4 linked regions of the Homo sapiens genome follow. The protein of the gene in region 4 interacts with the protein of the main gene of each other region in a biochemical or structural test. Each region holds a gene or a part of one and is shown on either strand. Other genes may lie near its edges.

Region 1 (7,024 bases), on a different chromosome or scaffold from region 4:
TCTCATCCCTCCCAGCACCAAGGACTGGACAGCACTTAGACCCCCAACCACCATCCAGAGCAGTGGACTCACAACTCAGGCCAAGTGGGGAAGTGCAGGTGCACAAGAGAGCGCTTGAGGCTCTGGTCTCGGAACTGCAGGCTCAGCACGCGCTCCACATGGGTTTCGGTGCTGCGGACGCTGCTCAATGCCAGGCTCAGGGCACCGTGCACCATGGGCTGGCCCCTCTCGGTGGGGAAGTAGCGTGCCACTTTTTGCTGAGGGACAGATAAGCCAAGACAGACCTGGTTTTCCAGGATCCCCTGCCCTGCCACCCCACACTGCCCTCGTGGGCACCCACCCCCTCTTCTCACCTTCTCCATCTCAGCCTCAGAAACCAGCATGACAATGACTGACACTTTCTGCTCATGGACCATGAGCCAGAAGTCAGCAGCTGTGCCAGGCAGTGGGGCCTGGGTTGCCACTAGCGGGGGGCAGTATGGGGAGAGCCCCTCCACGCAGCTGGCATTGATGTAGTCATCCTTGCCTGAGCGCAGCACCACACGGTTACTGTCATAGGGCATGACATCCTGGTGCCGGTTCTTCAGTGAGTAGCAGCGGGCAATGGCGATGGAACGGCCTCGGGCATCATGTTCCTGCGCATCTTGCAGCTCTCGCCAGACAGTGTCCAGAGCTCCCACATCCCCCAGCTGACCCCGAAAGGCCTCCAGCTCCTGCTGCAACTGCCGCAGCCTCTCAGGATGCTCATAGGGGTCCCGCTCAATCAGCCGCAGGGCCTGCGGCCGACGACCCTCAGCTGCATCCACCTTGGTGGGCTGCAGCAGGGGCTGCCCACCCCCAGGAGACTGAGTGCCGCCATGCTGGCTCTCCGGGCTGGAGGAGAGCAGGTCTGCAGCTGCGGCGCCTCGGCGCAGGCAAGGGGGTGGTTCTGCTGCTGGGGGGCGAGGGGGTACCGGACCAGGCCCTGGAGATGGGGCAGGTGAAGGCACCAGGTGGGGACTAGGGGTGGACTGGCCAGCAGACGAGGGCCCTCGAATGGTAAGAGGGGCTGCCTGGGGGCCCATGGGTCTGGTAGAAGGGGCAGGACCATATGCCAGTGGGGGATGGGGAGGCTGAGGGGGCCCAGGGCTGGGGAAAGGCAGAGCCCCTGAGTGGGCTGGCAGAGGGTCTTGAGCGGGACCTGGGTAGAGCTGGGTGTGTAGGGGGGGTGGCGGCTGCCCCAGGACCCCAGGCTGAGGGGCATAGGGGTAGGGGGATTGTGGGGGTAGGAGTCCTGGGGCCTGGGGTGGGAAGAGATGTGGATGCTGGAGTGGAAGGGGCTGCTGTGGGGGCTGAGGCCCAAACGCTTGTGAAGGATGGGGCTGAGGATGGGGCTGGGGCTGGGGCCCAATCCTTGGGGCTGGAAAACCTGCGGGGATCCCAGAAGAGAAGTGGTGCTGTGCCGGGATGGGTTGCTTAGCCCCTGCAGGGTAGGTGTAAGGCGTGGGCAGTGGCTGCGGTGGGGGCACAGGGAAGCAGGGCGGGGGAGGAGCAGGGGTGGGGTTTGGCCGTGGGGCTGTGTGGCTGGGGATGGGCGCCTGGATGCTATCTACTGTGGTGGTGGCTGGCCGAACCGCCATGGCCAACTCGGGGCCTGAGAATTGAGGAGGTGGGGCCGAGGGGAGACCTGCAACTGGTGGGGCCGGCCCTACCCCCACATAGGGACTGCTCACCACGCCATGCTGTGGGGAGGATCGGGGCACAAGGCCCAGCTCCGGTGTGTAGGCAGGGGCTGGGTAGAGGGCAGGCCCAGGTGCTACGGGCATTGCATGGGGCCCTGGGGCCCTGGGCTGTATCAGCTGGGTGGGGCCCGAGTAGGTACCAGGGGGCAAGGGGCCTGAGAGATAGTGGGGTCCTGGGCCTGTGGAGCTGGGGAAGGGGCTGGGAGGAAAGTGGAGCGGGGTGGCACTTCCCAGGAAGGTGTCAGGCAGTCGTGGGCCAGCCACCATGTCAGGGGGGAGGCTGCGCAGCTCCTCAGGGGGGTCTCCTGCTTCCACTGCCTCACTCTCCTCCCTGCGGGGCAGCAGCGGCTTTGGGGCTGTGGGCCGTGGCGGCGGCTTCTTCTTCAGCTCCCTGTGCGACAGGCAAGGAAAAAGTGGGGCCAGGCTCCCATCACCCCAGCCTGTCTGGACCCGAGCCGCACCACAGCCCCAGGGCCACACAAACCTGTCCAGGAGCTGCTGGCGGGCAGCCTCGCGGGCCTGGCAGGTGGACTGCGTGCGCTCCAGCAGAGCAGCCACCTTGCTCTCCAGATCTGCGTAGAAGTCCCTGCCCTCCTGCGACTTCTTCATCAGGTCCTCATAGGCTTCATACGAGGCCACCAGGGTCTGCAGCGTGGAGTTCCACCTGGTGGGCAGAAGGGCCAGCTCCAGGTGAACCATGGGGCTGGGCTCCAGGTGGCTCCGGGAAAGAGCAGAGGACTGGGCACTGACTTTTGGTCCAAGTCGCTGAGTACCCGCCGCACGGCTGCGTACTGCACGTTGGCCTCTGTCAGTGCACAGAGGACACGGTCCTGGGCGGCCAGGTTCTGCTCCAGGTACACCTTCAGCTGGTCATACTTTTTCAGCTGCTCCTCGAACAACTTCTGAGGAAGGGGTGGGGGCCAGGGACGGACACTCAGGGCCTCGACTCCTAAGGGTGGGGCCCGGAGCCAGAGCCCCTCTACCCTGCTCACCCAGCCCACCTTCATCTCTGAGTGGTCTGTGGTGACCAGCGAGGCAGTGATGTCATCTTTCTGGATAAGCTCACGCAGCTGCTGCTCCAGGGACACGCGCTGGTCCCGCATCTCCTGCACCTTAGCCAGGATGCGCTTTAGGTTTTGCAGCACGGCCTTGTCCTCTGTGGGCAGCAGTGGTCAGTGAGGCCAGAGAAACCCCCAGCTCGAGTCTCCCAATGGGGTCTGGTGGGGCTCACCTGGGGAGAGGGCCGGTGTGGGCAGGGCAGCCCGGACCTGGTCAAGCGGCCCGCTGAGCAGGCGCAGGTTGCCGACGTGCAGGTTCATGGCACGGTGCAGCTCACTGTTGGTGAAGGAGGCCTTCTCATGGACTTCCATGTACTTGGCCCATTCTCGCCTCACCTCTGCCAGCTCAGCCTTGGAGGTGATGGAGATGGCCCCTGCCTGGCCCACCGCCTCCTGAAACTTCTGCTCTAGCAGCTCATCCTCCTCCAACAGATCTCTGATGTCCTTCAGGGAAGCCTCCACATCCGTGAACACACCTGACAGCACTGGGGTTGTGGATTGTACAGGCAGCCCCTGAGGCAGGCTGACCGGGCACCCATGGGCCCCTCCCCCAAGAGACAGAACCGCCCCCTCAGGTCAGGGCTTAAGTGAGGCCCAGCGCACACTGAGCAGGGTGCAAGAGGTATGCTGATTCAGAGGAGTGGGTGTGGATGCCCAAGCCAGGGCCTAGAGGGGTGCAGCCTCCATCCTCAGTGACCAGGGACACGGAGGAGGCCACAGCAGATGACCTCCACACTCCCTTCCACCTGCTTGCTCTGCCCCTTACTCACCTTGCATGGACTGTACAAGGTTCCTGACAGTGTCGGGCCGGACGCTGAGAGCCGCGCACTTCTCCATGAGCTGGGGTGGGATGTGGCTGTAGGCATCAAGGTTGTCCACCGTCTCGGGATCCAACTGCATTGAATCCATGAACTGGCTGTGGGGAGCAACAGGGCCAGGTGGGTGCTGGGTGCTGATCCAACTCTGACCATGTCAAAGGAGCCGCTAGGGCAAGCCTCACCACTCAATCTGAGGTCTCAGCAGAGAGCAAATTGTGACCTCGGACCCCTACTACCAGGTCTGGCCTGGTCTCACAGAACATGCCCAGGGCACTGCTGGAAACAGTGGAACAGAAGGCACCTCCTCCTCCCAAGACATGACTCCTGCCTTACACACTAGCCCCACCACCCCAGGCGGGAAGGCAGCATTGGGAAACCTGTTTGGAATGGACATTTCATTCCTCTCCCAGCATAGGCAGCCCTGGGGCCCCCAGAGGCCCGGGAAGTGCTGCCTGCCTCCGCCTCCCTGCCCAAGTCCCACACTCACTCCAGGACCTCATTCTTGTCCTCAATCTTGGCCATCATCTCCCGGAGCAGCTTGGCCTTCTCCTCACTGCAGAAGCGACAGAGCATTTGCTGAAGACCCACATCTCAAGACACCCCACCTCCCTCTGTGCCACCCTCCACCCACCTGTACAGTGACGAGGCCTCGTGGGCAGCCATGGGTACCAGTTTGGCAAAGATGTCAGGGCCTGTAACAGCTGGGTCTGTGGGGTTCACTGGCAAGGGCTTCACCAAGGGGGCTCCTGGGGGGGTGGGAATTGTGGAGATCAGGCCCACGCAGAGTCCTTGAGGCAGCCTCCTGTGTCCTGTCCCCACCCCACCGTCACCTCTGCCCCCACCTCTCAGCTCCCCGACCTTTTACAGGCTGAAGAGTGTCCAATGCTGGGACAGCCTCATGGTAAATGAAGTCGTTGTCCTTCTTGGCAGAATTGTACCTGGGGATCAGGAGCAGGGGGAGTGGGCAGTCACGGGGTGTCAGTGGGGATCCAGAACCTACTTCCCATGTAGATGCCAGCAGAGGGACAAGACCCTTCACAAAAAGAGGGAACCAGGGCCACCCCCACAGACTCACTTTCCCCCAATGACATCCATAGTGAAGCGAAGCGCGTCTTGCACAGTGTCAGGCTGGCCCTGTGGGGTTAGGGACAGGGGTGGGGCCTTAGCACTAACCAAGGCTGGCACCAGGACACCCCCTCAGTCCTACCGGGCTTGCTCCTATACCCTCAGGGCAGCCAGGCCTTCCTCAGCTTTACCTTGGCCAACTTGATGGCTTCATTGAGCTTGTCCAGGGCGCTCTGGAAGTATGCAACCTGTGGAGGGTGGCAGGAAAGCCTGCTCTGTCCTCCTCTGCTTGGACCCTTTCTCCTCCTGCCTCCCACCCGGCCCTGCCTGTCCATCAGATGACAAGCAGCTCAGGAGGCAGCCGGGCACCACCCCAGCCAACAGCAGCAAGGTGGCGCCACACCCTGCCCCAGCCACCTGCTCTGTAGGGAGCCTGCCCCACCTCCTCAGACCCCGAGGGACGAGGGCTGCACAGATGGGACAACACTTAAGACACCAGGCCTCCAGCAGGGTGATGGCCAGGGTGAGACAGAGAAGGCCACCCCCTGGTGTGTAAGGAGCGGGAGCACACCGGCATCTCACTGAAGGCTGCCATTGGTCCCCAGTCCCCTCCTCGCTGTAGCTCACCCGCTCCCCGAACTTCTGCTGCTCCTCGGCCTGCTTTCCCATGTGCAGCTGGGAAAGAAGAAGAGACGCCACGACTTGCTTCCTGAGCTGTGGCCACTCAGCCCCGCCCTGCCCCGCCCTGGGGCCCCAGGCCCTCACATGAGCCACGGCTGCGAAGTAGTAGATCTTCATCTGCACAAGTTTCTTCCAGTCCTTCTGGATCCGGCCCAGCAGTGAGGCAGTGTCGGGGTTCTCCAAGGCCCGGCATGCCTCCTTGTAGTAATCTACCACCTGAGAACAGGGTGGGGCCCAATGAGTGGGGGAGTCAGCAGTAAAGTGAAGGCCTCCCCTCAGCCCCGTCCCTACCTGTGCACTGATGCGGGCCACCAGAAAGCTCTTCCTGTTGTCCAACATCGACTTCTCCAGGAGGCACTCCTGAGCCTGGCCCTGGGGCGACACGTGAGGTGCACTCCCTCGCTCACCCAAGGCCTCCCGCTTCCCCTTCCCTTTATCCTTCCCCAGGGGCAGACTGAGGGATCCCTCTTCACTGCCCTCTCCCCCAGCTGCCCCCACTCCAAGCAGCACCACGGTGCTCCTGATTCAACAAAGCCAAGGCCCCTTGCTTGTCCCTCACTGCCTTGGTCCAGGATCCAGGCCCAACTGCCCCCTCCCTGGCCATCCCCTTCCCTGGATTCAACTCCACTCCAACCAGGGCGCCTCCTCACCAGCATGAGGTTGACGTTGAGCGTAAGGATCTGGCGGCTCATGTCGACGCTGTAGGCTTGAGGGAAGTGCTCCCGTAGGTAGGCGAAGGCGCCGGCTGCGCACTGGAAATGGGTACAGGAGACCTTCATGCCCTGGGAGGGAGTGGGAGGATGGCCTGTGTCCACTCCATGGGTCAGGATTCATCCATACTTGGGAGGCTGCCCCTCCCTGGTATGTCCACATGTTCCACTACTGCCCCTCTCCTCACCTCCTCAGACACCCGCTTGTCCATGGCCCCCAGCATGGAGTGCAGCGCTCCTGGGGAGGGAGGGGACAGTGTTAGGGGCCTGGGGCTGCTCACACCCATGTGAAGGTGAGACAGAGGGGGCACTGCTGTTATCCACAATCAGGACAACATGGCTCTGAGAACCAGGGCAACGAGTCCAAGGACACCCAAGCTGGAGGGAACAGGGAAACTCAGAAGTCCTGCCCAGCCCTCAGTCTCCTGCTCTGCATTTGGCAGAGGATGGAAGGGCTCCTGTCCAAGGGGTCCAATCTTGAAGCTTCAGGGATGTTTGCACAGAACTCTGGGGCTCCCCAAGCTTCTCCCTTGAGCCAGGCTAAGGCTGACTAGCAGGGTAAGCTGAGGCCAGCCACACTCTCCTCCTGCCTGAAGCAGCCCAAAACCACAGTGGGGAGGGGCTGTCCAGTCAAAGAAGAAAGGCCCTCTCTCCCAGACAGAGCACACAGTGGCAACTCTGTGTGGCAGCCAGCCCAGTAGAGCCTCGCCCCAGCAGAGGCTCCCCACGGGCCCAGCCCAGAAAACAGTGGAGGAGCTGGCAGGGCTGTGGGGAGGTCAGTGGAGGGGCGGGAATCCTGGAGTCCTCCCTTTATCAGCCCACTGCCTTTGTGGCCATCTGAAGAGCTGAAAGCTAGGCTGGCAGGACTGGGGAGTAGGGCCGGGGGAAGGGATCAGGCAGCTCACCAAGGTTGTAGAGAATACAGGCCTGCTCGTACTTGATGTCCTCATGGGCCACAGACTTGCCTGAGA
Region 2 (7,024 bases), on a different chromosome or scaffold from region 4:
GGACTGGAGGACAGAAGATTACTTTCCATCATAAGCCCTTCTGCACTATTTGATTTCTTTAAATCATATATTCCTTTATAAAAGTAATTTTTATTCAACAACTAAGGGGTGCTTGATTTAGGAGCAGAATGAAACCGTACGCTCTTAAAGAAGTAAAAGGCACAGGCTTCATTGACACTGACGCACTCTGCGCCTCTGATCTCTCAAGAGAACAGGTTTTCTCATCTAAGATGTTAGAAAAATAGAAAGTTAAAAAATTATCCTGTCTTTTTATTATGAAATAAACATCTATTTTAAATGTGCTATTAATTGTTCATTGGTTAAGACTATTAACATTTTACCTCTAATTGCCACGAGAGGAGCTCTGTCATCTTTGCACTTATTCTCCAACTAACTTATATTTAGAGAAATAAGTATTTACTAATTTAATAGGTTAAAAAATAGCAATTTTCTAGAGTTACTGATTTAAATTTGTTTTAATTCTAACACTTCTGCTAAAGCTATTGTTAATTTATGTATGTATACACAAAATGCAAGTCTACTATAGAAATCATTAATCCGTAAAGATTCAGAATACCTATGAAAGGACACATAAGAAATTGTAATGCCAGTGGTCTCCAGGAAAGAGAACTGGTTGTTGCAGAGCAGGAGAGAAGACTTCACTGAATATCTTTAAAATTTTGAACCATGTGAGTAAATTACATTTTTTAAAATTTAAAGCAAAATAGGTAAATAAAACATGCAATTATCTGGCACACCGCACTCAATAATTACTGCCGTTATTACCATATATTATGAGAATATGATATACAGTACGTTGCTCTTCTATATACATGTAATTATATCTTATTATTAAAAGTCTACCAACTCAAAGCTTCCCCCTTTCCTTCATAATTTAAGTAATGTATAGAATGTGAAAACCCTGAATTCCACTAGGGCAAATGTCCCTGCAAATACTATCAGTCTGATGTCAGACATAATTCCAGTACCTCCAACTCTTCAGGTGCTCACACCACATACTCAAAATCTAGCATTAGAAATTCAATTGACTCAACTCAATAACTTCAACACAGGTCATGAAGAAAGTGTTAATCAATTAAAAATATTAACTGATTTTGCTGTACTTTGCGAGGCTGAGGCCAGCAGATTGCCTGAGGTCAGGAGTTCAGGACTAGTCTGGCCAACATGGTGAAACCCCATCTCTACTACAAATACAAAAAAATTAGCGGGGAATGGTGGCATATGCCTGTAATCCCAGCTACTCAGGAGGCTGAGGCAGGGGAATTCCTTGAACCAGGCCTCGAGGTGGCGGTTGCAGTGAGCCAAGATTGTGCCACTGCACCCCAGCCTGGGCGACACAGTGACATTCCGTCTTGAGAAAAAAAAAAAAGTATTAACTAATTTTATAAAATAACAGGAAGCAGACAGTGTTGCATTTAAATAAGATACCTTTCCTTGGAAAAAAACCTAAATCACCCAACCTTTCTAGTTATATTAGCCAATTAAGCCCCTAAGAATTTCTCAGACCTCCAAAAGAAAAACTACTTTGCCACTATCACCCTTTTTCTTCAGCCTAACAATTAAGATACCCAGCTTTTCAATTCTCATAGGCCATAAATGTATCTAGAAAAGTTCCTCTCTACATAGCTATTCATAATTCATAAGAAAGCTTAAATGACTCCATGCAGTGCCTTCTAAGCAGTCCACAAACAAAAGGTACAAGCCAGCCAAAATCCAAGCAGCAATTCCATATATACTAAGGAGGAAAAAAAAAAAAACAGAAATAGTAAGACAACAAATCTTAAATCAGATAAAACTCTGCTGCTGAGTTAATAAATGTAGATGGACAATGGAAGAAAGAGTTGGAAACAATACCCTGGGCTAGCACACTAAAGACTTTAGTACCTTTATCCATACTGCTGAAATCCAACTAGAAGATGGTGAATCAGACAGAGGTGACCCAGTTCTCTTCATCACTTCAGTGATCAACAAATTACAGATATTTTATGTAGTTTATGCAGAAGCCCAGGTTTCCACAAGAGATTTTTCTGCCTCCTGCCTCTTTAAAAGAGAATTAATATTCTCAGATGGGTGCAGTGGCTCATGACTGTAATCCCAGCACTGTGGGAGGCTGAGGCAGGATTGCTTGATTCCAGGAGTTCAAGACCAGCCTGGGCAAGATGGCGAAACCCCCTCTCTATAAAAACTACAAAAACTAGCCAGGCATGTTGGCGCATGCCTATAGTCCCAGTTACTCCAGAGGTTGAGGTTAAAAGATCACCCGAGCCCAGGAGGCAGAGGCTGCAGTGAGCCAAGACTGTGCCACTGCACTCCAGGCTAGGCATAGGCAACACAGCGAGACCCTGTCTCCAAAAAAAAAAAAAAATTTCTCTGGGTGAACATTTTCAACAATTATCAGAATGATTTACCCTGGAACTATATGAACCTACATACCCTACATACACTAAGTAATCCCAATATGCTTGTTTCCCCTAATCATCCATTCTTTTCAGTAGCATAATGCTTAATCAGTACCTATCCATTCCCCTGATCTGTGATTTCAAAAAAACCCAGACAACTCAATGAATTACAACTATATGTTAAATAATAACAAGGAACCGTTAATAAAAGCCTGAAAACTAACCTATGAGCAAAGTTTACACTCCATTTGTCTGCAGATATTAGCTGCTCAGGAGCACTTCTGGTTTACTGTCAATTACCAGCCAATTCCAATAAGGTGAGATTCCAAATAACACAATTCCACATTGATGCATAGCTGTTATTCTTCAGGAAAACTAAATTAGAAACACAATTTAGTTCGGCCACATGTGGTGGTTCACGCCTGTAATCCCAGCACTTTGGGAGGCCGAGGTGGGAAGATCACAAGGTCAGGATTTTGAGACCAGCCTGGCCAACACAGTGAAACTCCGTCTCTACTAAAAATACAAAAAATTAGCCAGGTGTGGTGGCAGGCACCTGTAATCCCAACTACTTGGGAGGCTGAGGCAGGAAAATCGCTTGAACCTGGGTGGCAGAGGTTGCAGTAAGCCCAGATCACGCCATGGCACTCCAGCCCAGGAAACAGTGCGAGACTCCATCTCAAAAAAAAAAAAAGTGTACTTTTTATTACTGAATTGATTTGAAATAAGAATCAAGAAATTAACCTTAGACCATGTTATTAAGGGAACACGTTAAGGACTTGGCTTTGTGCTGTTGTTAACCATGGTACTCTGGAAATAAAAAGTTGGTTTGACAAAACTAGTTTCAAGACAAATACATCATTACTTCAAGTGATCAAACCAAACATGCTAAGAAAACTATTCAATACAAAAAATATAAGATTTAATCACTTATAAAATTGGAACCTGCACATTGTTTGGAAGTTGACCTCTCTTCCCAAAATATAAGCAAAAATGGTAAGGGGGATTATAAACTAAGAACCCAAATCGACTAAATTGTCTTTTGTTTTGTTTTTTTTTTGAGACAGAGTCTCTCTCTGTCGCCCAGGCTGGAGTGCAGTGGCACGATCTCAGCTCACTGCAATCTCCGCCTCATGGGTTCAAACGATTCTCCTGCCTCAGCCTCCTGAGTAGCTGGGACTACAGACGCACACCACCACGCCCCCGCTAATTTTTGTATTTTTAGTAGAGACGGGGTTTCCCCACGTTGGCCAGGATGGTCTTGATCTCCTGACCTCGTGATCCACCCGCCTCGGCCTCCCAAAGTGCTGGGATTACAGGCGTGAGCCACCGTGCCAGCCGAACTAAATTGTGTTTCTAAATCTTATACCACATCAAATGCATTACAGACACAAGTATATTGGAATAATTTACTAAAAATGTCCATTATGTACTGAGTATTAGCTCATTTAAAAAAATAGAAAACTCAATAACGTAAAATGGAATATTCCTTTTTTATATAAATTTAAAGGCAGAAAATCTCAGGGAAAACAAACTTCTTTAACTCTACTCAGTTTTTCCTTGCTGTTCTATTCACATAGGTTTTTATATAAATATACATTTATACATTACACTCAACAAATTTCAAAAGCAATTTGATTTGTATAACCAAGGATGATTTGTATAACTCAAGATAAAATGCCAAGAGTGCAACCTCCGCTTTAATGAAAATGCTCTTCTTCTGAACAATGAAAATGCTTTTATTCTTGAAATCGGGGAAAACTCCCCTTCCACCACCACCACCCCACACACACACACAAAAAATCAGCTAGAAAATGATAAACATTCCAACAAATTAATTTACTTATGGTGATTATGTTCTTAGAAGAACAATATCCGGGGAACCCGGTTGGTCCTGTTAGTACCAACACACACTCTTGTCTCACCCACACAAGCGTTCTGCCCCTCCATTCTCCATTATAGGGTGGAGCATCACAAGAAGCACCACAATCTCACATCCTGTCTGTCATCTCCAACCCTGTCTCAACTTCATGGGTCTTATTTAAAAGTATGGAACTGTGACAATAGGGTCAACATATGCATGTTTCACAGCCTTCTCTATGCATAAAGTGCACACACAAATAGAGCTCTCCCACTCTTTAGACTCTGCTGCTGGAATAAAATCTCTGACTTTCCCAGCCTTGCTGTTTCTCCAAAATATTATCTCACACCTGCAACTCAATTCTAATATAAGGGCTACACAGTAAAGCGTGCAAGTACTGATTTTCAGCTGAACTTTGCCAGTGAAATGAGAAGATGTCACCTCATTTTCTAAATGCAGTTCCCAATCAGCCATAAGGTGATTTGTGAATCACTGGGTTCCCTTGAAGTTTTTCCTTTTGCCTGTGACTTACTGTCACTTCACAATTAGCATTCTACAGGTGCATGCAACAAGAAAGCATGCAATTCTTAAATATCTTAAACGTTTTAACAACTCTGGGGAAGTCGGGTTGGGAAATGACTGAAAATAAAGTTCTGGTTTTCAGTCTCACACATGAACTCTTTTCCACATTAACACAGGATTATCAAGAAATGGACTAAACTCTAATAACCTAATTTTTAGATGTCATAAAGAGATTAAACTTCCCAGGGGAATACGGAAACTCTAAGTTGCTACCTACTCTTTGGCTTTAATCACCATACGACGTAATACTGCAGAATAATATGCAGCTACTATTATTCTCTCTTTGCTAATAGAAATTTTGATCTAAAAAAGTTTTATATGAGGAAACAACTTAAGTGATACAGACTTATTTTCATATTTCTAAATCTTATATTTAAGTATTAAACCTAAACAACTAGCTAAATTTTCTCCAATTGTATATACCAAAAGGATTACTAATATTTTAACCAAAAGTGCCACAAACAGTCCCTTACTTTCCCTATGGAGTAAAATATCATGTGATTCTAAAGAAAAACTTTATAAACATTTATTTAATTACATGTAAACTTGGAAGTGAACAAAAATGAAACATTGGTTTCACTATAGCAAGTAAAAAGTAGTATTTCAAATATACTGATTTAAATTTGGGATTAATGCCTAAACTCAACAAAAAGGGCAAAAAATACTTGTTATAAAATCAACTTTTAATTTCTTCTGGAGTCTTCACAAAGTGAAGGCTCTCAATACTTTATTCTTAGATAAATTTTGCATTTAAAATAATAGTAATAATCATTATTTATAAAAAACAAGTTTTAAGCATATATCAAAGATTAATGGCTACATATCTAAAATGTTACAGTCACAGTTTAGTCCCAAAAGTATTTTCATTGATCTGAAATAAGCCATCATGAAACTATTATAACCAGGTTTCAAGTGTGAGGCTTTTGAAGCTGTATATAAAAAAAAAAAAAATTAGGACTTTGATGAGAAGCATTTAAATAAAAGCCCTTAGTTTACTGCTCCCGAATATAAATCCAACATCTTTAGGTGTAGAAAAATTAGAAACTGTGCAATTAATAGACTAGGAAGTCAAATATCATTGCCAGTAACTAACTGCTGTCTGAATTTCAAGGGAACTTATTGTATATTAAATTTTAAGAAAGTGAACTCACCTACCCTCTCACCTCAGCACTTTCTCAATTTTCCCATTACAATTAACAATATAACTTAGCAGTCAAGTCTTCCAGGCCAGTAACATCAGAATTTATTTTTAACTCTTGACTCCTTCACAAATATTCCACTTCAGTCCAGTATGAAGTTCTGCCAGTTCTTCATTCACACTGTCTCTCAAACCTGTTCCTTTCACCCCACTTTCACATTTTACTTTATTCCCTCATGATTCACAACATACCCTACTAGCTCCCTAAAAAGGCTCTAGCATCTCTCTACTATAATTCACTAATTCAACTGCAAAAATCATCTTACGTCTTATTCAGCAACCAACAATAAATCCAGATCTCTTCTGAATCTCAATCAAACTTGTACAGAACCCCTCTGCCCTCCATCAGCTAACTTTCTCTTATTTCTCAAATTCCATCTGTTCTTATGTTCTTATTTAGGCCCCTTTAATTCAGATTTGTCAACTTGATTATTGTCTCTCATGCAAAACTCACCATCATTGTTCCTTGGTACACTCCTTCCACCTAGACCTTTCATGCTTTTCTACCAGTTCAAGTTACCACCTCCTTTAACATCAGTCCTAATACACCTTGTCCGCAGGAAGTCTTTCCTCTCCCAACCATCAGTCTCACCCCTTTACTCTTTGCCACTCTGAACAAATGATTCAATTTGTATTTTACAATCTTGCAGTCATCACGCTATTGTTTTAATTTTTTTTTCCCCATAGCCTCCCTCTACAACTAAAGGATAAGCTTTTGAGAGCAAGGACTACAATTTCTTATGTCTGTTTTCAACAGGGGTTCCTTAGAATGCTAGCATCCTAACAAATGCTTAAAGACTCCCCTTTCTTTTAAATGCTTTTAAAGTCAAAGCTGTCAAAAACACATAATTAACACTAAACTCCAACTTTTAAAATTCTAAATTGACCTATATGGTAATCGGAATTAAACATTTTCATCTATATATTTTACAAGAGTTACTCCATCCTTAGTTAGTATCTGTA
Region 3 (7,024 bases), on a different chromosome or scaffold from region 4:
ATCAGCAAAGCGAACAATACATCGTTGTTGTTATAGGTTTCAATATCCCCTTCTCAGTTATCGACAGAACTGGACAAAAAACTAGTAAGGATATATAAGGTGTTTTTTTGTTTATTGAGACAGTCTTGTTCTGTTGCTTAGGCTGGAATGCAGTGGCGCAATCATGCCTCACTGCAGCCTTGAACTCCTGGGCTCAAGCAATCCTCTGCCTCAGTCTCCTGAGTAGCTGGAACTACAGGTGCATGCCACCATGCTCAGCTAATTTTCAAAAAAATTTTTCTACTTTTGTAGAGACAGGGTTTCACTATGTTGACCAGGATGGTTTTGAACTCCTGGCCTCAAGTGATCCTCCCACATCCACCTCCTGAAGTGCTGGGATTATGGGCATGAGCCGCTGTGCCCAGCCAGGCTATATAAGGTTTGAGAATGCTGTCAAACATGTTAACTAGTATACCTGATAACTGTAAAAAAAATTCTTTTTCCAGTACATATAAGAACATTCAATAAGATAGACCATATGATAGGCCATAAAACTTGTCTCAATAAATTACAAATGACTGAAATATTACAGAGTGTATTCTCTGACTATAACAGAATTAAATTAGAAGCCAGTAACAATTAAGATTATCTAGAAATGTCCCTAAACATTGGGAAATTAACAACATATTTCCATATCTTCATTGCTGTGGTCATTATACCTGTAAATACATTTACCAAAACTCATCTAATAGTCAATTTAAGATGTATACATTTCACTGTACATAAATGTTTATCTCAATTTTATATATATTATTATTTTTTTTTTTCTTGAGACAGAGTCTCGCTCTGTCACCCAGGCTGGAGTGCAGTGGTGTGATTTTGGCTCACTGCAATCTCCGCCTCCTGGGTTCAAGTGATTCTCTTGCCTCAGACTCCCGAGTAGCTGGGATTACAGGTGTATGAGACCACATCCAGCTAATTTTTTAATTTTTTAGTAGAACTCCTGACCTCAAGTGATCCGCCTGCCTCAGCCTCCGAAAGTGCTGGGATTATAGGCATGAGCAACCATGCCTGGCCTAATTAAAAAAAATTGGAAAAAAAAAATTCAACATGGGTTCAGGTGAATGCAAAGAAACGGAAGATGAACATGTATCTATGTCTAAGGTGTAGTCAAAACAGCAAATGAAGGGCAATTCTCCAAGTAACCTGGCTTCTCTAGGGCTTGTTCAGTCTAGCTAAGAAAATTCTTAAGACAGAACCAAGGACATGAAATAAATCTTATTTTTATGGCAAAACAATGCAGCTCTAAGAATCTGCTAAAAAAAAATAAAGTATATTATCATTCATTCAATGAACATTTATGGAGTTTGTTGTTTAGTGGGGAGGCAGAATAAACTGACAATTAAAAAATTTCTGGCCAGATACAGTGGCTCACGCCTGTAATCTCAGCACTTTGAAAGGCTGAGGTGGGCGTATCACCTAAGGCCAGGAGTTTCAGACCAGCCTGGCCAACGTGGCAAAACCCTGTCTCTACAAAAAATATAAAAATTAGCTAGACACAGTGGCATGCACTTATAATCCCAGCTAGGCAGGAGGCTGAGGCATGAGAATCACTTGAACCAGGGAGGCGGAGGTTGCAGTGAGCCAAGATTGTGCCACTCACTCCAGCCTGGGCAACAGAGCAAGACTGTCTAAAAAAAACCCAAAACAAAAACAAAAACAATCTAAATTAAAAGTAAGAAGGGCTGGGCGCCGTGGCTCACGCCTGTATACCCAGCACTTTGGGAGGCCGAGATGGATGGATCTTGAGGTCAGGATCATATAAAAATACAAAAATTGGCTGGGCGTGGTGGCATGCGCCTGTAGTCCCAGCTATTTGGGAGGCTGAGGCAGGAGAACTGCTTGAACCCGGGAGGCAAGGTTGCAGTGAGCCGAGGTGGTGCCACTGCACTCCAGCCTGGGCAACAGAGGGAGACTCCATCTCAAAAAAAAAAAAAAAATTTCTAACATCAGATTATGGTAATAGTTGTACAATGCTATAAATTTACTAAAAATCGACCAGGCAGAGGGGCTCATACCTATAATCTCGAAATCTTCGAGGCCAAGTTGGGAGGATCACCTGAGTCTAGGAGTTCAAGACTAGCCTGGGCAACATGGCAAGAACCTATTCTCTGGAAAAAAATTAAAAATTAGCTGGGCATGGTGGTGTGTGCCTGTAGTCCCAGCTATTCTGGAGGCTGAGGTGGGAGAATCACTTGAGCCTGAGAGGTCAAGGCTGCAATGAGCTGTGATCATGCCACTGCACTCCAGCCTGGGCAACAGAGCAAGACCACAACTCAAAAAAATAAAAATAAGAAGGGCCAGGCATGGTGGCTCACACCTGTAATTCCAGCAATTTGGGAGACCGAGGCAGGCAGATCACGAGGTCAGGAGATCGAGACCATCCTGACCAACATAGTGAAACTCCGTCTCTACTAAAAATACAAAAAAATTAGCTGGGCATGGTGGCGCTCGACTGTAGTCCCAGCTACTCGGGAGGCTGCGGCAGGAGAATCACTTCAACCCAGGAGGCAGAGGTTGCAGTGAGCTGAGATCGTGCCACTGCACTCCAGCCTGGCGACAGAGTGAGACTCCATCTCAAAAAAAATAAATAAATAAAAAATAAAAATAGTCTGGGTGCAGTGGCTCACACCTGTAATCCCAGCACTTTGGGAGGCCGAGGTGGGCAGATCACGAGGTCAGGAGATCGAGACCATCCTGGTGAACACGGTGAAACCCCCTATCTACTAAAAATACAAAAAATTAGCCAGGCGTGGTGGTGGGCGCCTGTAGTCCCAGCTGCTCGGGAGGCTGAGGCAGGAGAATGGCGTGAACCTGGGAGGCGGAGCTTGCAGTGAGCCGAGATCACGCCACTGCACTCCAGCCTCGATGACAGAGCGAGACTCCATCTCGAAAATAAATAATAAATAAATAAATAACAAAAATAATAAAAATAAAATTGGAAGCAATCAAACATTATGAAGATACTAGACATCAGTGGTGCTTACTGTATGCTATCTGATAATTCTAGAGTTTCTAAACCTATGAGACTACTTAGGGTCAGGGCTAGGGGACTACAGCAATGCCTTCTTTAGCTATTAACCAGGAAAAGGACAGCCTGTACCAGGATATATAAGCAACTAGCTCACACCCTTATCAAAATGTCTCTAAAAGAGAAAGCCAGCTGGGTGTGGTGGCTCACACCTGTAATTCCAGCACTCTGGGAGACAGAGGCAGGCAGATCACTTAAGGCCAGGAGTTTGAGTCAAGCCTGGCCAACAAGGTGAAACCCTGTCTTTACTAAAAGTACAAAAATTAGCCGGGAATGGTGCTGCACACCTGTAATCCCAGCTACTGGGGAGTGTGAGGCATGACAATCACTTGAACCCTGGAGGCAGAGGTTGCAGTGAGCCGAGATTGCACCACTGCACTCAGCCTGGCTGACACAGCAAGACCCTGTCTCAAATAAAAAAATAAATAAATATAAGAGAAAATATATATAAGAAATAGAAAAGAGAAAGCCAGATGAAGCTACCCACTGCTTTGTCTTAGAATAGTGGCATATGGCTAATATAATGGTATTACACAAATTATTTAACTGTCTGTGGCTCCTATGGGTTCAGTTACGTATCACTTACTACGTTCCATACACATTGCTAGGTTCTGGGAATATATAATTCCGATGAGAGAGAGAGAGAGAGAGAGAGAGAGAGAGAGAGATTTTCAATATACTATGGTAAGTAATGATACTGTTTTTGCTGAGATCAGGTCGGTGAAAACACATAAGAGAATCAGGTGTCACAGACAGGAGGTAGGATGGGAAATGTCAGAGAAAATGTTGCTGAGGAGCTGACATCTAAACTGAAACTTATAAGGAGTACAATTAGGAAAGGGAAAAAAAATGAACATTCTAAGCAAAGGAAACAAAAGCATGAGCACAGGTATCAAACCATGACCATGAAACAATATGTTAATGAGGAAAGAATCAGTGATCATTCAATATTACTTACATTATGATTCAAGGCATGGAGGGAAATAAATTAAAAAATATAAAAACAATATAAAGACTTCTTCCTAAAGCTTTAACTATTTAAATGATGTTACTGTTACCCTCTGTTGATCACCCTCAATTAAGAAAATTATTGGTCTAGGCCGGGCGTGGTGGCTCACACCTGTAATCCCAGCACTTTGGGAGGCTGAGGCAGGCAGATCACGAGGTCAGGAGATTGAGACCATCCTGGCTAACACAGTGAAACCCCGTCTCTACTAAAAATACAAGACATTAGCCAGGCGTGATGCAGGCACCTGTAGTCCCAGCTACTCGGGAGGCTGAGGTAGGAGAATGGCGTGAACCTGGGAGGTGAAGCTTGCAGTGAGCCGAGATCGCGCCACTGCACTCCAGCCTGGGCGACAGAGCAAGACTCCATCTCAAAAAAAAAAAAAAATTATTGGTCCATAAATCTTATAAATCTGGGACCACTACCCTACATGATATACAGCCTTGAAGAGTTAAGCATGTGAGTCTCTGGCTGACCTATCTTGTAGAAAATGGCTTGATAATGTGACATCTCCCTATATTTTCCTGCCCTCCCCCAAAAAGACCTGTTGTAAACACTGTTCAAACACCAGCATTTTATTAAGGATAAAGTAACCAGAATTTACTTTTACAACAAGAAGTGGAACACCATTACTGACAGTAAATACTTGCTTTCATTTATCTCAGTCTTGGCATCAAACTCTGAAATAAAATTTACCGGCCGGGCATGGTGGCTCACACCTGTCCCAGCACTTTGGGAGGCCAAGGCAGGCGGATCACCTGAGGTCAGGAGTTTGAGACCAGCCTGACCAACATGAAAAAAACCCCATCTCTACTAAAAATACAAAATTAGCTGGGCATGGTGGCGCATGCCAGTAATCCCAGCTACCCGAGAGGCTGAGGCAGGAGAGCTGCTTGAACCCAGGAGGTGGAGGTTGCAGTGAGCCGAGATCACGCCATTGCATTCAAGCCTCGGCAACAAGAGCGAAACTCCATCTCAAAAAAGAAAAAAAAAAAAAAAAAGAAAAGAAAATTTACCTTTAAAGCAATGTAGTAGGAATGTAGTGACAATATGGTAGATTTACCACTTTGCAGTAGTTCTATCCACGATCTGAAGTTTGCAAGTCTTTTCTCTTTTTCCAAAAACTATGCCACATTTATATTTTTCACTGTTTGAAAATATACTGCTAGTTTGTAAGGCCTGCTCTTGCCAGGTGGAAGGAAACCTATACACCAGAGAATAGAATACTCACACAATTATTTCATATTTTTTCAATTTGGTAACCTCAACTCAACTTACCTGCTTTACATTGTATCCAGCTTTTGCACTAGTTTCAATAAACATAACATTCAGCTCTTTGGCTTTCCTCTCTCCCTCCTCAATTGACACTTGCCTGTAAAGAAACAAACAAACTTCTTACTTTTGAGACATGAGGCAGTATTATAAAGATTATAAAGAAAGCTCTGAAAATAACTTTCCTTGATATAAGGACTGGTTATACAGGTCACATTAGTTTAAAAATTCATTAATCTGCCACACTCTTGAAATTTGTGTGTTTCTGTGTGTGTATACTTAACATTTTTTTAAAGACTTTTTTTTGTTACTGATTTGCTTTCACTTGACTGGGCTCATCCTGTAATTTTTTTACTTTTACAAACTTAATAGCTTGAGGATGCTCGAGCCCAGGAATGTTGAGGCTGCAGCAGGCCATTATTAGGCCACCACATCACTGCACTCCAGTCTGGGCAACAGAACCTGTCTCAAAAAAAGAAAAAGCTAAAAACAAAACAAAACAAAAAACGCTTAATAGCTTGCCTCTTTCCCTTAATATCAGACCACAGGCTTTTAGCCTTAAAATTCAAATCTTTGTGTAAAACAATTTTTATGGCTAAACAATTTCTGTCAATTTGCTCCTATAATTTATATAACCATTCCCAAACTATTAGAATGCAAGTTGCTTTCCAATTTTACACTACTATGAAAATTGTTGCCCTAAATATCTGTGCTTAATATTTTGTGCACTGCAAATCATTTCCTTAGGTTAGATTTTGTGGTTTTCTTTTTTTTGAGACAGTTTTGCTCTTGTCACCCAGGCTGGAGTGCAATGGCGCGATCTCAGCTCACTGCAACCTCCAACACCTGGGTTCAAGCGATTCTCCTGCCTCAGCCTCCTGAGCAGCTGGGATTATAGGCGCCCACCACCACACCTGAATAATTTTTGTATTTTTAGTAGAGACAGAGTTTCACCATGTTGGCCAGGCTGGTCTCAAACTCCTGACCTCAGGTGATCCACCCATCTCAGCCTACCAAAGTGCTGGGATTAGAGGCGTGAGCCACCGTGCCCAGCCGATTTTGTGGATTTCTGTAAGTGAAGTAAGTGAGTCAAAGACATGTATGGTAAAGCCTCTAGATACAAAATATTAATACTTTAATATTACCTTTACAGGGTATTTTGTGATGCATTACAATTAGCACTATGTCTCAAATTGTGAGATCTCAAGTGCAAGATTATGTCATTTATATTGGTATTCCTAATGCTTAAGCTGGCAGATAAGTATTCCATAAATATACAAATGTTCTAATTAGCTAGATTTAAACTATCAGCTGACAAACCCTGCTTCCTACAACACAGAAAATGGGCAATGGAAGAGAATTTCCACAAGCTTCCATTTACTTGCAAGTGTGCCCTTATATCCTACCTCTAGTCCTATTACTATGAAAGAGTTGTCCTTATTCTCAAAACTTACATCTATGTATTAGATCCCACTCCCTTCTTGCCTACAAGAAATTATTATTCTAGAATTCTCCACTCCCTAAAAACAAGAACATTCTCTTACATAACACTCCAACTGTTAAGATTTTACATTTGCTTGTGTTATCTTCTCATTCTCTCTGTGTATATAAATTTTCTGAAACACTTTTAAAAAACTGTTTGAGAGTAAACCGCCAATCTGCAGACCTTTAGCCCT
Region 4 (7,307 bases):
TGGATTTACTTTTCATACAAGAAATGTTACTTGAAATCAATTTAACTCATTTAAGTTATATTTCCAACTAAAGTATATTCTATGTTTAAAGAATAAAAATAATAGGCCTCACTATCAAATAATCAACTATAATAATTTTATTACCTAAAATACATTTTTATATAACTGTATAAACCAGTTTTTTAGGAATCTCGAATTTCACTTATGCTAAATGCAACTGAAAATAAATATATGAACAAGAATCGTTTAGTAAAAATAATGCTGGTAAATTTTTATTAACCTCCTGCTATATAGAACAAAATATATATTAAAATATTTATAGAAAAAATTTTAGTTGGTATTTGCATTATTCTGTATTAAGAAACCACAGTTACATTATTCCTACAAAACGTTTTTTTCACATTTTTCTCATTACTGCTGGTGAAACTAATACAGGTAGTTTTATTAACATCTGTCACTTCCTATACATCCTAATTTTCTTAGTATTTATCTAACACTAATCAATATTGACTAGTGAACCCTTGATAAAAGTGTGCCTTCTTCTAGTACAAACTGATTCTTTCATAAAATATTTCATGCCCACTGTGTGCTAGCTTTTGTGTTAAAGACTTGGGATGCAAAGCTCATGGTGTAGCAAAGGCAAAACACAATTGCATTAAGGTTTGCTATGCAAGGTAAGTGCAATGACAGAAATATCCCTAGAAGGATTGTTTAAATCAAGCAGCAAAGTCAGTAAGAGGTACATTTCATTAAATTAAGTCCATCTCCTTTATCAAGAAGGTGATGGCTTACCACTTTCTGGTTTGCACTTCCCTATCTTGGCAAAGCAGTGTTGATAGGTATAGACAATATCAAAACATCTCTGAGAATGACAGTCATCATCCTGCTTCCTCACTTCACAAGGTTTAGCATCACTGCATTTAAACATGTCAGCCTAATCTAAGTTGGAAAATATAAACAAGTCCAGCTGTTGTTAAGACCAGACAGGTACATGGTAAGTAAAATAGGAACCAGAAATTTACAGCCTGACACACAAAAATTAGATTCCTAGTTGGGATTTTTAATCATAGGTAGTACATTTATTTTTTGGTAGACAGGCATCCAAATAAAAATAAGACATATCTAAAAGTATAAATGCTTACCATATTACACACTAAATTGGAAGGCAAGTTGATTCAGTATGTCATAAATCACATCTTTTAACTGTAACAGCATAAAATAAATAATAGATTTTTGATATTATATGCCAAACAATAATTAACATTTAAATGTCAATATGCACCTAAAAATAAGGACTTGACACACAGAAAAGGAGTGTATATTACATTTAAATTTGTAAGTGGTTATTTGCTACCCATAGTGCCTCAAGAATCAGATAAAAAAGACCGAGTTACTTAAACAATATGTATGTTCTTAAGAGTGACTGATAGGAAATCAAAGCACGTTCATTGTTTTCTCCCATACATCCGACAGGCTTTAAAAGAGGCCAAATACCAAAAAACTAAAGAGACATTATACATCACCCATTTTTGATATTCTGGTTTTATAAATATATCATTTCAACCAGAAGAGCCTCATTTGAAATGCAACACTACCCACGTATTTGATATACACCACTCTTTCAGACTATTTGTAGGTGAGTTCAATTTTTTCTAGTCAGGGTGACCTCATAAGACTTGGACATGGCCCAGCCTCGCTCCGAGGTGAAATCAAGGCAGTGGGATCACCCAGCAAAGTTGTTTTTCTTCTGCAGCCCAATGACAAGAATGACTAAAGCCAAGCAGAATGAAGATTGCCTAGCCTTTGTCAAATGGGATTGGTGAGGAGTTCCCTCTCTCACCAAGGAGTGGTTACATCCAGAGGAAAGCTGAGGTGCCACACAGTCTAAATCCTGAAATTGTGGGTCCTCAGGCACAAACCTCATCACTTTTGTGGACTACGAAATTGTCGCTGAAACCTGGGTTTGAGATAACAGCGGTTTTGAGAAGTTTGATTTATACATTCCAACCCACTTGAATGTCGTCTTAGAGTGCTGAGACTTGATGACTCTTACTAATCTCCCTCCCCCGCAGGCCAAACAGCCATTGCCTCCCAAATTCCAGCTTATATATTCATTTCTTAGGCAATTTTTCTCTTGGGGGAGGAAACAATGGACTCTTTCAATCTTCTCTTACCAACAAAGGGCCCTAGAAGAAAAAACAGTCCTTTCAATCACCTCCTTTATGACTTCTTGATCATGATGAGTGGGCCTTGCGGGTGGGGGGAGTGAGGGCCAGGAAAGGGAGAGGTGACAGGCAACTCACCTCTTTGAGCTGCTCCAGCTCCTGTTTGAGGCTGTCGTACTCAGCCTCCAGTTCATCATACTGCTGTTTGAGGGTCAGCTTCTCCTCCAGCACCACCAGCCCGTACTCGGCAGCCTGGATCTTCTCGTGGGTGGTCTCCGTGAGCTCCTTGGTTAGCCTCTCTATCTCAGTCTTATAATGGTCCACCGTCTGCAATACCTCTTCTGCGGCCATAGCCCCGGTGGATGGAGGCAGGAGGGGGTTACGGGGTGGGGGAGATGGATGCGAAGCTGGCGGGGAAAGGGAGAAGGAAATGGGAAGGGATGGGTGGAAACGGAAAAGAAAGTGCGGCCGGATGAATGAGCAGCGCGATGCCCCGCCGGCTCTGGTGGCAGCGGCAGCTACACCGCCCGAGAAACTGACGAGAAATGCAACATGGAGAACAGGGCAGAGGGTCAGGGGCGAGGCGGCAAAGGCCGCCGCATGTGTCCTCGGGGCCGGCCCCTGCGTGCGGTCAGCAGCCGTGCGGCATGGCCCGGGCTGCGGCGGCCGCGGGTAGCGAGGGGCTCCGGATTCTGCTTATTCAGAGACGCCCGTCCGCCATGTCTCCCGGGCCGCGTCACTGCAGTCTCGCCCTGGGTCTGGCGCGCTCCGGCTCGCGGCTCGCTCTCTCGCTCCACCTGCTCCCTCTGGCCCTGCAGCAGCCGGTGCGGAATGATGCAGTCTCGGGGCCGGCTCCCTCCCTTCCCGCGTGGCGGCGGCTCCGAGCAGGGGGCGGGGAGCGGATGGAGTCAGCGCGGGGGGCGGAGGGAAGGACCAGACGGAAACATCCCGAGGCGCCTCCCGCCGGGCGCGCGGGCCGCCGCCCGCTGCACCGTGAGGCGCGCCAGGAGGAGGCGCAGGCGACGGGTCTGGGACTGGGAAGCGGTGGGGCGCGCGCGGCGGGGGAGCCTCCGCCCTGTCCGGCTCGCGGGGGCGGGAGCTCCTCCCAGGGCTTTGTCCCGGTGGCAGTAGAAGACCCCGAGAGCGGCGTGGGCGCCCGGGCTCTTTTGCTACGTCGAGGGCCGAAGCTCAGGAAACTGCCTGGAACGCTTTCTCCCGAGAAAAGCAAACAAAACTATCGCGGTCGCGGTCCGCGCATCCTCCTCGTCCCCTGGGCGCGCAGAAGGCTTTTTGGGCCACCTGCCCCCAAAAGACCGCTGGGTTTCCCAAAGCTTTCAAGACGCACCCCAAGGCGCCCTCCTCCGTCGTCCCCCTCTCTCCCTGCCTCTCCCAAGTCTGGCCTGGGCCACCTAACACTCTCACCAGATAACCTTACTATCCTCACAGGACAGTCCGCTAAATATTGCTCGCCCTCACCCAGCGTATCACAAGAGCGCTATCCACTCAGAAAAAAAATATCTCCACAATACATGCACCCAGGAAACCTCTAGCTAGGTACTGTATATCTTGCCCCAATAGTTTCCATCAAAGCACCTTACTCTGTGTCTTCAATAAAGGAAAACTGCTTGAAATTCCCTATATAAGATACCAACGATGCCCTGTAATAAGCATTTTTTAAACAATAAGAGCTAAGAGTTCTTGAGACCCATACCAAGCATTCTTCTAAGTATGTAACATGCGTTCTCTCCAATCCTAACAATGCTTTGAGGTAAGAGCCATTATCCTCAGTTTACAGGGGGTGAAAGGCAAAGGGAGATGTGATTTGTCCAAAGTCAGGCAACTCTGGAATCTTAACTCGGGAGCACTAAACGGGATCATTATGTTGGCTTCAGGTTCACTCATTACTCATACAAACCCAGCAACTACATATTACATGCTTTTAAGATAATCACATTAATCCATATGAAGAGTGATGATGAACGGTTACAAAAGGAGGTGAAAGCAAAGTAAGAGTGGAGTAAATGAAAGAGTGGAGAAGGGTCGAGAATCAAGAGGAAGAACGCAACATGAGAGAAAAGAAGCAATTTCTGTGTAACGGGAGGCTGTGAGACCCACAGATCAGTGGGTCTTTCCAGTTCCCTCTCTTCTTCTGCATGGCACCTATTCCAGAGCTGTTTCTCAGTGACCAGGTGATGAACACACATGCGTTTTCTAAGTTAGAAAGCAGGACTCAACTCTCCCATCATTGTGTACCTGGTAAAAAAAAAAAAAAAAAAAAAAAAGATGATTGTTGACCGGGCACAGTGGCTCACGCCTATAATCCCAGCACTTTGGGAGGCAGAAGTGGATGGATCATTTGAGGTCCGGAGTTCAAGACTAGCCTGGCCCACATGGTGAAATCCCATCTCTACTAAAAATACAAAAATTAGCCAGGTATGGTGGTGCACGCCTGTGATCCCAGCTACTTGGGAGGCTGAGGCAGGAGAATTGCTTGAATCCAGGAGGTGGAGGGTACAGATGGCACCACTATACTCCAGCCTAGGCAACAGAGACTCCATCTCAAAAAAAAAAAAAAAAAAGGACACTTGTTGATGGCGTGGGAGAAAAAGCATATGACAGTGCCCTTCCAAAGTTTCCACTAGCAGGCTGTCTGGATGTGTTTTCCATTGCTTCACAAACCAGACAAGTTTCCTTCTAAACGCCAGCGATCACAACAGAATATTCTCATGTGATTGTCTGATCTAAAAATAAAACAAAAGAATATTCTCTTGTGATTGTCTGATCTAAAAATAAATAAATAAAAGGAGAAAACATTCCAAATGTGCAGCCACCATAAATTCCAGCCTTGTAGAGAAGCGGATGATAATGACTACAACATCCGACCCATCTTTCCTTATCTCGCACTCCAGGTGGGAAGCCCCTCCTGTGTGCTCCCGTGGCATCTGACCTCTGACACGTTGATGAATGATGATGAACTGCTGAAAAGAGATGGAACCTGCAATTGCAGGTAGCTAACCTGCCTTCCCAGGAAGCCTCTGGCTGTTCCTCACTCTACAAACTGTAAGCATAGGCCTTCCAAAGGGATCATAAGACTCGCACTAGATTGCCTGTGCCTCCCTCTCCTTTGGATCAAACTAAGAACAGAGTTTGCCTCTGTGACTTTCCTTTTTGCTAAATTTCCATTGTGGTCCAGCCCCTATGCTCTATCCTGCCCCGTTTTTCTGATTGATACACTTTTGTCACTTGTCACTTTTGTCTGATTTCAGGCATGTCTTGCACACTCTGACACTTTAAGATGTTGCTTAGTTGAACTTTGATCCTTAAATGTTGGTATTTAACGTAAAGAAGATAAACTTATTTTCTTGTTTTTTTTCTCTTTTTTTCTGAGACAGGGTCTCCATCACTTAGGCTGGAGTGGAGTGGCATGATCATGACTCCCTGCAGCCTCAACCTCCTGGACTCAAGCGATCCTCCCACCTCAGCCTCCTGAGTAGCTGGAACTACAGATGAATACCACCACACTCAGCTAATTTTTTAAATTTTTGTAGAGACAGGGTCTGTCTATGTTGCCCAGGCTGGTCTCAAACTCCTGGGATCAAGTGATCCTCCCACCCTGGCCTCCCAAAGTTCTGGGATTACAGATGTGAGCCACCATGCCCAGCCAAATTTATTTTCCTATACACCATGCTGTTCCAGTACTGCATAGTTACAGTTCCCTCTTTTTTCGTATATGCCATATGTATTGCATATATATCAATGACAGGTATATAGAAAATAATTTCTTAAAGCATTCCTAGGCTGGGTGTGGTGGCTCATACTGGTAATCCTAGCACTTTGGGAGGCTGAGGCAGAAGGGTCACTTGAGGCCAGCAGTTCAAGACCAGCCTGGGCAACATAGCGAGACCTCATGGCTACAAAAAATTAAAAAATACTAGCTGGGCATGGTAATACATGCCTGTGGTCCCCAATACTTAGGAGGCTGAGGCAGTATGATGGCTTGAACCCAAGAGATTAAGGCTGCAATGTACTGATTGTGCCACTGTGCTCTAGCCTGGTGACAAAGCAAGACTCACCAAAAGAAAAGAAAAAAAGGCCAGGCTCGGTGGCTTACACCTGTAGTCCCAGTACTTTGGGAGGCCGAGGTGGGCGGATCATCTGAGGTCAGGAGTTCGAGACCAGCCCGACCAACATGGTGAAACCCCATCTCTACTAAAAATACAAAAATTAGCTGGGTGTGGTGGTGGGCGCCTGTAATCCCAGCTACTCGGGAGGCTGAGGCAGGAGAATCACTTGAATTCGGGAGTTGGAGGTTGGAGTGAGCAGAGATCCGCCACTGCACTCTAGCCCAAGTGACAGAGTGAGACTCCGTCTCAAAAAAAAGAAAAGAAAAAAAGCAAAAAAAAAAAGCACAAGCTAGTCTACTTGGGTCATATCCAACTTTGCCACTTACTAGCTGTGTGTTTCTCAGTTGTGTCATATCTAAAAAGGAGATAATAATATAATCTAATTATGAGATTGTTGTGAATAGAATAGTATCACACACATAAGCATTTTATATGTGCTTTTTAAAAGTTTTAAAAGAAAAACAAGGATAAAATTTAGGTAGAAAGAAGAAAAAAAGATAATCAGTAGAGATCTCTCTGAAGAAGTGATATTCATTTTATTATCTATGAGGAACAAAAAGGAGTCGGATATACAAAATGTGGGGGAGAAGCTTTTCAGGGAAAGGAAATAATGTGTAAAAGCCAAAGGCAGAAAAGAGCTTGTTGAGTGCAAAGAATAAAAATCTGAGAGGCTGCTGGGTGCAGTGGCTCATGCCTGTAATCTCAGCACTCTGGGAGGCCAAGGTAGGAGGATTATGTGAGCTCAGGAGTTCGAGACCAGCCTGGGCAACATACCAAGACCCCATTTCTACTAAAAAAAAAAAAAATTTTAATCGAACGAGCATGGTGGTGCATACCTGTAGTCCCAGCTACTTGGGAGGCTGAGGTGGGACGATCCCATGAGCCTGGCAGTGAAGGCTACAGTGAGCCATGATCGTGCCACTGCACTCCAGCCTGGGTGACAGAGCAAGACCCTGTCTCAAAAACAAATAAAAAAAAAAAAAAATGAAAGAGGCTGAGGATTAAGAAGCTCAAGGGA

Evidence for each region.
Region 1: the proteins of BICD1 (region 4) and PTPN23 form a complex in vitro, tested with the Homo sapiens proteins (one study listed by BioGRID).
Region 2: the proteins of BICD1 (region 4) and GSK3B form a complex in vitro, tested with the Homo sapiens proteins (one study listed by IntAct).
Region 3: the proteins of BICD1 (region 4) and RAB6A form a complex in vitro, tested with the Homo sapiens proteins (3 studies listed by BioGRID).

Annotation. Positions count from the first base shown.
Region 1 is NC_000003.12:47,405,016-47,412,039, reverse strand, and holds part of PTPN23 (tyrosine-protein phosphatase non-receptor type 23), read right to left. Parts: coding exon 6,959-7,024; intron 6,292-6,958; coding exon 6,242-6,291; intron 6,126-6,241; coding exon 5,994-6,125; intron 5,716-5,993; coding exon 5,635-5,715; intron 5,560-5,634; coding exon 5,428-5,559; intron 5,338-5,427; coding exon 5,290-5,337; intron 4,911-5,289; coding exon 4,854-4,910; intron 4,732-4,853; coding exon 4,673-4,731; intron 4,536-4,672; coding exon 4,456-4,535; intron 4,344-4,455; coding exon 4,229-4,343; intron 4,151-4,228; coding exon 4,085-4,150; intron 3,696-4,084; coding exon 3,550-3,695; intron 3,265-3,549; coding exon 2,953-3,264; intron 2,878-2,952; coding exon 2,723-2,877; intron 2,624-2,722; coding exon 2,472-2,623; intron 2,386-2,471; coding exon 2,206-2,385; intron 2,113-2,205; coding exon 354-2,112; intron 258-353; coding exon 73-257; intron 1-72. UniProt on the Homo sapiens protein: Plays a role in sorting of endocytic ubiquitinated cargos into multivesicular bodies (MVBs) via its interaction with the ESCRT-I complex (endosomal sorting complex required for transport I), and possibly also other ESCRT complexes.
Region 2 is NC_000003.12:120,084,431-120,091,454, forward strand, and holds part of GSK3B (glycogen synthase kinase-3 beta), read right to left. Parts: intron 219-7,024; exon of another isoform or gene 134-218; intron 1-133. UniProt on the Homo sapiens protein: Constitutively active protein kinase that acts as a negative regulator in the hormonal control of glucose homeostasis, Wnt signaling and regulation of transcription factors and microtubules, by phosphorylating and inactivating glycogen synthase (GYS1 or GYS2), EIF2B, CTNNB1/beta-catenin, APC, AXIN1, DPYSL2/CRMP2, JUN, NFATC1/NFATC, MAPT/TAU and MACF1.
Region 3 is NC_000011.10:73,702,066-73,709,089, forward strand, and holds part of RAB6A (ras-related protein Rab-6A), read right to left. Parts: intron 5,449-7,024; coding exon 5,355-5,448; intron 1-5,354. UniProt on the Homo sapiens protein: The small GTPases Rab are key regulators of intracellular membrane trafficking, from the formation of transport vesicles to their fusion with membranes.
Region 4 is NC_000012.12:32,102,541-32,109,847, reverse strand, and holds the start of BICD1 (protein bicaudal D homolog 1), read right to left. Parts: upstream 3,002-7,307; 5' UTR 2,517-3,001; coding exon 2,304-2,516; intron 2,187-2,303; coding exon of another isoform or gene 2,160-2,186; exon of another isoform or gene 1,958-2,159; coding exon of another isoform or gene 1,937-1,957; exon of another isoform or gene 1,204-1,936; coding exon of another isoform or gene 1,147-1,203; exon of another isoform or gene 1,040-1,146; intron 1-1,039. UniProt on the Homo sapiens protein: Regulates coat complex coatomer protein I (COPI)-independent Golgi-endoplasmic reticulum transport by recruiting the dynein-dynactin motor complex.